2 linked regions of the Homo sapiens genome follow. The protein of the gene in region 2 purifies or fractionates together with the protein of the main gene of each other region. This does not show direct contact. Each region holds a gene or a part of one and is shown on either strand. Other genes may lie near its edges. The genes, in order: GOLGA4 and GBP7.

What was found.
Region 1: the proteins of GBP7 (region 2) and GOLGA4 purify together in Homo sapiens (affinity purification with mass spectrometry; one large-scale study listed by BioGRID and IntAct). This does not show direct contact.

The regions. Positions count from the first base shown.
Region 1 is NC_000003.12:37,323,109-37,326,930, forward strand, and holds part of GOLGA4 (golgin subfamily A member 4), read left to right. Parts: intron 1-479; coding exon 480-3,822. UniProt on the Homo sapiens protein: Involved in vesicular trafficking at the Golgi apparatus level. May play a role in delivery of transport vesicles containing GPI-linked proteins from the trans-Golgi network through its interaction with MACF1. Involved in endosome-to-Golgi trafficking.
Region 2 is NC_000001.11:89,131,115-89,134,817, forward strand, and holds the end of GBP7 (guanylate-binding protein 7), read right to left. Parts: intron 2,338-3,703; coding exon 2,144-2,337; intron 1,290-2,143; coding exon 1,035-1,289; 3' UTR 628-1,034; downstream 1-627.

The sequences.
Region 1 (3,822 bases), on a different chromosome or scaffold from region 2:
CTTTTGTCTTTTTTTTTTTTTTTTTTTTTTTCCAAGACAGAGGAGTCTCGCTTTGTTGCCCAGGCTGGAGTGTAGTGGCATGATCTCGGCTCACTGCAGCCTCTGCCTCCTGGGTTCAAGGGATTCCCCAACCTCAGCCTCCCGAGTAGCTGGGACTACAGCCGCATGCTACCATGCCCGGCTAATTTTTGTATGTTTTGGTAGAGACAGGGCTTTGCCATGTTGGTCAGGCTGGGTCTCAAACTCCCGGCTTCAAGTGATCTGCTCACCTCGGCCTCCCAAACTGTTGGACTGTGCCTTGCCATAATCTTTTCTTTGTTATATGATTCCTTTAGTAATTGAGCATAGATTCTTTGTCTTTTCTAGTGTTTGGTATGATAATTTTGATCTTCAGGTAGGTGGTAGACATCATGTCTGTGTATCATTGTTAGTAGACAAGTACGTACTTTAATAAAAATGCATCTGTTTTTAATTAACAGAGAATTCTTGAATTGGAAAGTTCTTTGGAAAAAAGCTTACAAGAAAACAAAAATCAGTCAAAAGATTTGGCTGTTCATCTGGAAGCTGAAAAAAATAAGCACAATAAGGAGATTACAGTCATGGTTGAAAAACACAAGACAGAATTGGAAAGCCTTAAGCATCAGCAGGATGCCCTTTGGACTGAAAAACTCCAAGTCTTAAAGCAACAATATCAGACTGAAATGGAAAAACTTAGGGAAAAGTGTGAACAAGAAAAAGAAACATTGTTGAAAGACAAAGAGATTATCTTCCAGGCCCACATAGAAGAAATGAATGAAAAGACTTTAGAAAAGCTTGATGTGAAGCAAACAGAACTAGAATCATTATCTTCTGAACTGTCAGAAGTATTAAAAGCCCGTCACAAACTAGAAGAGGAACTTTCTGTTCTGAAAGATCAAACAGATAAAATGAAGCAGGAATTAGAGGCCAAGATGGATGAACAGAAAAATCATCACCAGCAGCAAGTTGACAGTATCATTAAAGAACACGAGGTATCTATCCAGAGGACTGAGAAGGCATTAAAAGATCAAATTAATCAACTTGAGCTTCTCTTGAAGGAAAGGGACAAGCATTTGAAAGAGCATCAGGCTCATGTAGAAAATTTAGAGGCAGATATTAAAAGGTCTGAAGGGGAACTCCAGCAGGCATCTGCTAAGCTGGACGTTTTTCAGTCTTACCAGAGTGCCACACATGAGCAGACAAAAGCATATGAGGAACAGTTGGCCCAATTGCAGCAGAAGTTGTTGGATTTGGAAACAGAAAGAATTCTTCTTACCAAACAGGTTGCTGAAGTTGAAGCACAAAAGAAAGATGTTTGTACTGAGTTAGATGCTCACAAAATCCAGGTGCAGGACTTAATGCAGCAACTTGAAAAACAAAATAGTGAAATGGAGCAAAAAGTAAAATCTTTAACCCAAGTCTATGAGTCCAAACTTGAAGATGGTAACAAAGAACAGGAACAGACAAAGCAAATCTTGGTGGAAAAGGAAAATATGATTTTACAAATGAGAGAAGGACAGAAGAAAGAAATTGAGATACTCACACAGAAATTGTCAGCCAAGGAGGACAGTATTCATATTTTGAATGAGGAATATGAAACCAAATTTAAAAACCAAGAAAAAAAGATGGAAAAAGTTAAGCAGAAAGCAAAGGAGATGCAAGAAACGTTAAAGAAAAAATTACTGGATCAGGAAGCCAAACTTAAGAAAGAGCTTGAAAATACTGCTCTAGAGCTTAGTCAGAAAGAAAAACAGTTTAATGCCAAAATGCTGGAAATGGCACAGGCTAACTCAGCTGGAATCAGTGATGCAGTGTCAAGACTGGAAACAAACCAAAAAGAACAAATAGAAAGTCTTACTGAGGTTCATCGACGAGAACTCAATGATGTCATATCAATCTGGGAAAAGAAACTTAATCAGCAAGCTGAAGAACTTCAGGAAATACATGAAATCCAATTACAGGAAAAAGAACAAGAGGTAGCAGAACTGAAACAAAAGATCCTCCTATTTGGGTGTGAAAAAGAAGAGATGAACAAGGAAATAACATGGCTGAAGGAAGAAGGTGTTAAGCAGGATACAACATTAAATGAATTACAGGAACAGTTAAAGCAGAAGTCTGCCCATGTGAATTCTCTTGCACAAGATGAAACTAAACTGAAAGCTCATCTTGAAAAGCTAGAGGTTGACTTGAATAAGTCTCTGAAGGAAAATACTTTTCTTCAAGAGCAGCTAGTTGAACTGAAGATGCTGGCAGAAGAAGATAAGCGGAAGGTTTCTGAGTTGACTAGCAAGTTGAAAACCACAGATGAAGAATTCCAGAGTTTGAAATCTTCACATGAAAAAAGTAACAAAAGCCTAGAGGACAAGAGCTTGGAATTTAAAAAACTGTCTGAGGAACTAGCGATTCAGCTAGATATTTGCTGTAAGAAAACCGAAGCCTTATTAGAAGCTAAAACAAATGAGCTAATCAACATTAGTAGTAGTAAAACTAATGCCATTCTTTCTAGGATTTCTCATTGTCAGCACCGTACAACTAAAGTTAAGGAGGCACTGTTAATTAAAACTTGCACAGTTTCTGAATTAGAAGCACAACTTAGACAGTTGACAGAGGAGCAAAATACACTAAATATTTCTTTTCAACAGGCTACTCATCAGTTAGAAGAAAAAGAAAATCAAATTAAGAGCATGAAGGCTGATATTGAAAGTCTTGTAACAGAAAAAGAAGCCTTACAGAAGGAAGGAGGCAATCAGCAACAGGCTGCTTCTGAAAAGGAGTCTTGTATAACACAGTTGAAGAAAGAGTTATCTGAAAACATCAATGCTGTCACATTGATGAAAGAAGAGCTTAAAGAAAAAAAAGTTGAGATTAGCAGTCTTAGTAAACAACTAACTGATTTGAATGTTCAGCTTCAAAATAGCATCAGCCTATCCGAAAAAGAAGCAGCCATTTCATCACTAAGAAAGCAGTATGATGAAGAAAAATGTGAATTGCTGGATCAGGTGCAAGATTTATCTTTTAAAGTTGACACTCTGAGTAAAGAGAAAATTTCTGCTCTTGAGCAGGTAGATGACTGGTCCAATAAATTCTCAGAATGGAAGAAGAAAGCACAGTCAAGATTTACACAGCATCAAAACACTGTTAAAGAATTGCAGATCCAGCTTGAGTTAAAATCAAAGGAAGCTTATGAAAAGGATGAGCAGATAAATTTATTGAAGGAAGAGCTTGATCAGCAAAATAAAAGATTTGATTGTTTAAAGGGTGAAATGGAAGACGACAAGAGCAAGATGGAGAAAAAGGAGTCTAATTTAGAAACAGAGTTAAAGTCTCAAACAGCAAGAATTATGGAATTAGAGGACCATATTACCCAGAAAACTATTGAAATAGAGTCCTTAAATGAAGTTCTTAAAAATTACAATCAACAAAAGGATATTGAACACAAAGAATTGGTTCAGAAACTTCAACATTTTCAAGAGTTAGGAGAAGAAAAGGACAACAGGGTTAAAGAAGCTGAAGAAAAAATCTTAACACTTGAAAACCAAGTTTATTCCATGAAAGCTGAACTTGAAACTAAGAAGAAAGAATTAGAACATGTGAATTTAAGTGTGAAAAGCAAAGAGGAGGAGTTAAAGGCATTGGAAGATAGGCTTGAGTCAGAAAGTGCTGCAAAATTAGCAGAGTTGAAGAGAAAAGCTGAACAAAAAATTGCTGCCATTAAGAAGCAGTTGTTATCTCAAATGGAAGAGAAAGAAGAACAGTATAAAAAAGGTACAGAAAGCCATTTGAGTGAGCTAAATACAAAATTGC
Region 2 (3,703 bases):
ATTAAAAAAAGGCACAGAAGAATATATGATGTGAAATGAGTTATTTTCTAATTTCTCACCTCAACTATTCAGGTTCATTCCTGCTGTGACCATGTATACTAGATAATTTTCTATTTTTCCAGAAGGAGATAATAATATATGCATACATTTATTATTTTCTAAATTCAGTGGTAGTAATTATACATGCTTCGTGCATCATTTTTTTTTTTTACTTATGATACATCTTGGAGACTTGTCATTGTTAGTTCAAATAGAGCTTCTCCCTTCATTTTAGTGGCTGTAGAGTATTCCTTTATGAGTGTTTCCCAAGATTTCCCTTATCAGTACCTGAAAGAGGGGCTTTAATGTTTTTTTCAGTCTTTTGGCATTACAACAATGCTGCAACATAAGTACTATTTTATATATACCATTTTCAATTTGAGTAAATCAATCTATATGATAGATTTCTAAATGTGGAAATGCTAGATCAAAGGTATGTGCACTTAAATATTTCATATATGATTCCAACAGTTCACACTCTCACTAGCAAATATGAGACACTGACAATATCCTCAAACCCTTGCCAGCTCAGTGCCCTGTCAAACTGTTCTTTCAAGCCCATGATAAATTGAAGCAAGAACCTCATAGTTTTTCTTTGCACAACTTTTATTGTCAGTAAAATTAAACATTTTTATTATCATATTTTTGCCTGTTTAAAATATGTGGCGTTACTCTCTTCTCACTGATTTGCAAGAGCTAATTATAACTTAAATTATCTCTGTGACTATAACATTAATTGAAAATAATTTCTTTATATTACCATTTGTCCTTTTGCTTTACTTAAATCTTTTCTAGGAATAATTTTATCTTCTAACTTGTTCCCCATTTCTATTAATTATTACTTTAGTCAAAATTAAGTTTGTTTTTATGAACTTCAGGCCATAATATTCTTTGAAATTTGCTTTTTAATTTTAAACTTTTCTTAAATGAAACTGCAATAACACATATACTTTTAAAATGAGCAACAGCGTTATACCATTTTAACAAAAGAAACCTCAGCTTATAATTTTCTTACCAGGATTTCTCAGCCTATTACATAATGAGCTAAGAATTTTCATTCCTAAATCAACTAGCTTAGCAGCCCCAGGTAGTGCTGCAATAAATATACTGCCAGCCACATCAAGAATCTGTGAAAACACTGAGGGCTCTTCATTTTCAGCTGCTTCAATTTGTTCTTTCAGTCGATTAATCTCTTCATTTAACGACTCAAATATCTCTTTAAATCCTTCAGTAAGCAGTTCTTCTAGGACCTATAAAAGTAAAAGAGCCTACTTTTGAAAATCCCCAATTTTTAAGAGACCGAGGTTTGTATTTAACAATTTCATTAGTTAAACATGTGTCCATTTCTCTAACATCTTAGAAAATCTTTGATGAGTTGGTCTGACATTTCCAGATGACTGGACCTAAATAAGGGGAGTATCCATGATATACACCTTTGTGACATTTCCTCAGCACCATCTCACTGGAGGTGGGGAGGAATTTTGTTCCAGCACAATGAATGCCCTTTGAGAGGGAATGCAGATTTAATTCTAATTGATTCCCCTTTCCACCGATATAGCAAGGCCATGCTCATCTAGCAAATAATGGGGACTGCTGACCCTGTATAAAACACTGGTTGTCAAGCTCCAGTTTGGGACAAGGAATATGTTTTACTCTAGTTGTATAGGATGAGTCAGGCAGATACAGAAACAAATGGAGCAATTTGAGATCATTCAGTATCATTTCATATCAAGCCAAATCTGATACTTTCATCCAGATGGATGTATTTTGGGTCCTTTTGATGGTTGTGCCAAGAATCCTAAGGGCTGGTGGACTAAGGTCCTAATTAATTGGGGCACAGTGAGACCATCCTATAATCACCACAAACAGCAGCCCAGCACCCTGGGGGATGTCATGTGTACTCTCCAAAGTCTAACATGACAGAAAGTGCTGAAGTCTTGTAAACTTACAGGCTTCAGTAGAATTCATATGTATTTGAAATTTAAGTGAAATATATCTTTTGTGTTTCCTTCTGAAATCTTGACTGAGCTTAAAATTTTGGCTCTTCCCTAAATGAGGAACTGGCATTGTGCCTCAAGCACTGCCAAGCTTCATCCAGACTCACCTTCATCTTGTGACTCAACATCTTTCTCAGTTCTCTCATATAGTTTTCCCTTTCCCTCTCCATCTTCTTCTTGAGTTGAGCTATGTTTTCCTGGAAACTTCTCTCTTGAGCCTCCATCATTTGCTGCTGTTCCTTCTGTTTTTGTCTTAGCAGCTCCTGTTCCTTTTCAGCTGCCTCCTTCTTAGCCTGCTTAGCTGTTCCACCGAGGTTTTACAGAGGGAAGAAAATAACAGTCAGGTGGGAGAAGAACCATCATGGCTAAGTAGATGGAGTCAGGAAGAGCTTCTCCCACTGAGAGACCAGACCGTAAAGAAGACTGATAAACTCCAAGCAGGACTTCAGAAGGAAGGCATTGAGAGTTGATGAAGGAAGGATGCAGACCCAAGGCTGAAGGGAGAGGAAGCTGGGAACCTTGCACAGGTTGCCAAGCACCAAGACTCATTCCTAATCCTGAGCAGCTCCTGGGGAAGGGGTGAGGTAAATTGGTGCGAAGTGGCCCACTCTTGCCATGGACCTCTGAAATCCTAGCTTTAGGAGACCCCACAACTCCCATAGATGTTTGAGCTGGCAAAGAGAGCTGCTTGGAGACTTGGTAGGGACAGGACTCTGGCCAGTGTGGAGCCTAGATATTTGGCACAGGAATGGCTGCAGTGGAGCACAACCAGGAACTCCCATCCCCCAAGGCTTGCCATGCCCAGATACATGGCCTTGGCTTTTGTCGACTATTGGTCCTGGATAGAACTGGGCTATCTTGCCTGTGGGACAGATCCAGTATGGTCTGAGCACCTCCCAGTCTGCTAGCCTCTCTCATGGTCCCTGCCTGGCTGCATCCACTTAAAGTGCAATGTCAGATGCCTAACTGAAGCACTTCCCAGCAGCCATCACCATATCTTCTTTGCTGACATACCCTACCTAACCATCATAGAGCTTCAGCAGATGGGCTCACACCAGTGTGCACTCAATGCACCCTCTCCCCACTGTTTTGCTGGCACACACTCGCTTGCAGCCTCTCACCACCGCTTTGCTGGTACACATACCTGTGCAGACCCTGTCAACCTGCCACCACCAATGCACATGCACAGAACCTGCAGCACTACTGCCCTGCTGCTGCTGCTCACCAATGACCTTGGACCCCACTGCCACTGCTCTGAGAAAGTACTTTTGCCAGCACTCCTCATCGGTGTGTTGTTGCCAGTTAACCAGTAGCAAGTTGGCCCCTGCAGCACAGCAGGTGCTTAACCTAGAGGGGCCAGAGAACAAAGCCATGGGCCTGGTCCCAGCCTACTAAGGTTCAAGCCCCCAGCTCAGGAGTGCTGATCTGAGCCTTGGCCCCTTGAAATCATCCAGAAAAAAAAAAAAAAAACCCAGTCAGATGAACCCAACTTATACCAGTTGAATCTTCAAGAGAATAAAACAAAATAAAAGCCAAAAACCCCATGAAAGAAACAGACACTTCAAAGACTAAAGGAATATCAGCCCACACAGATGAGAAAGAAACAGGGACAGAACTCTGGCAACTCAAAAAACCAGAGTGTCTCTTACCTCCAAATGAGTCCACTA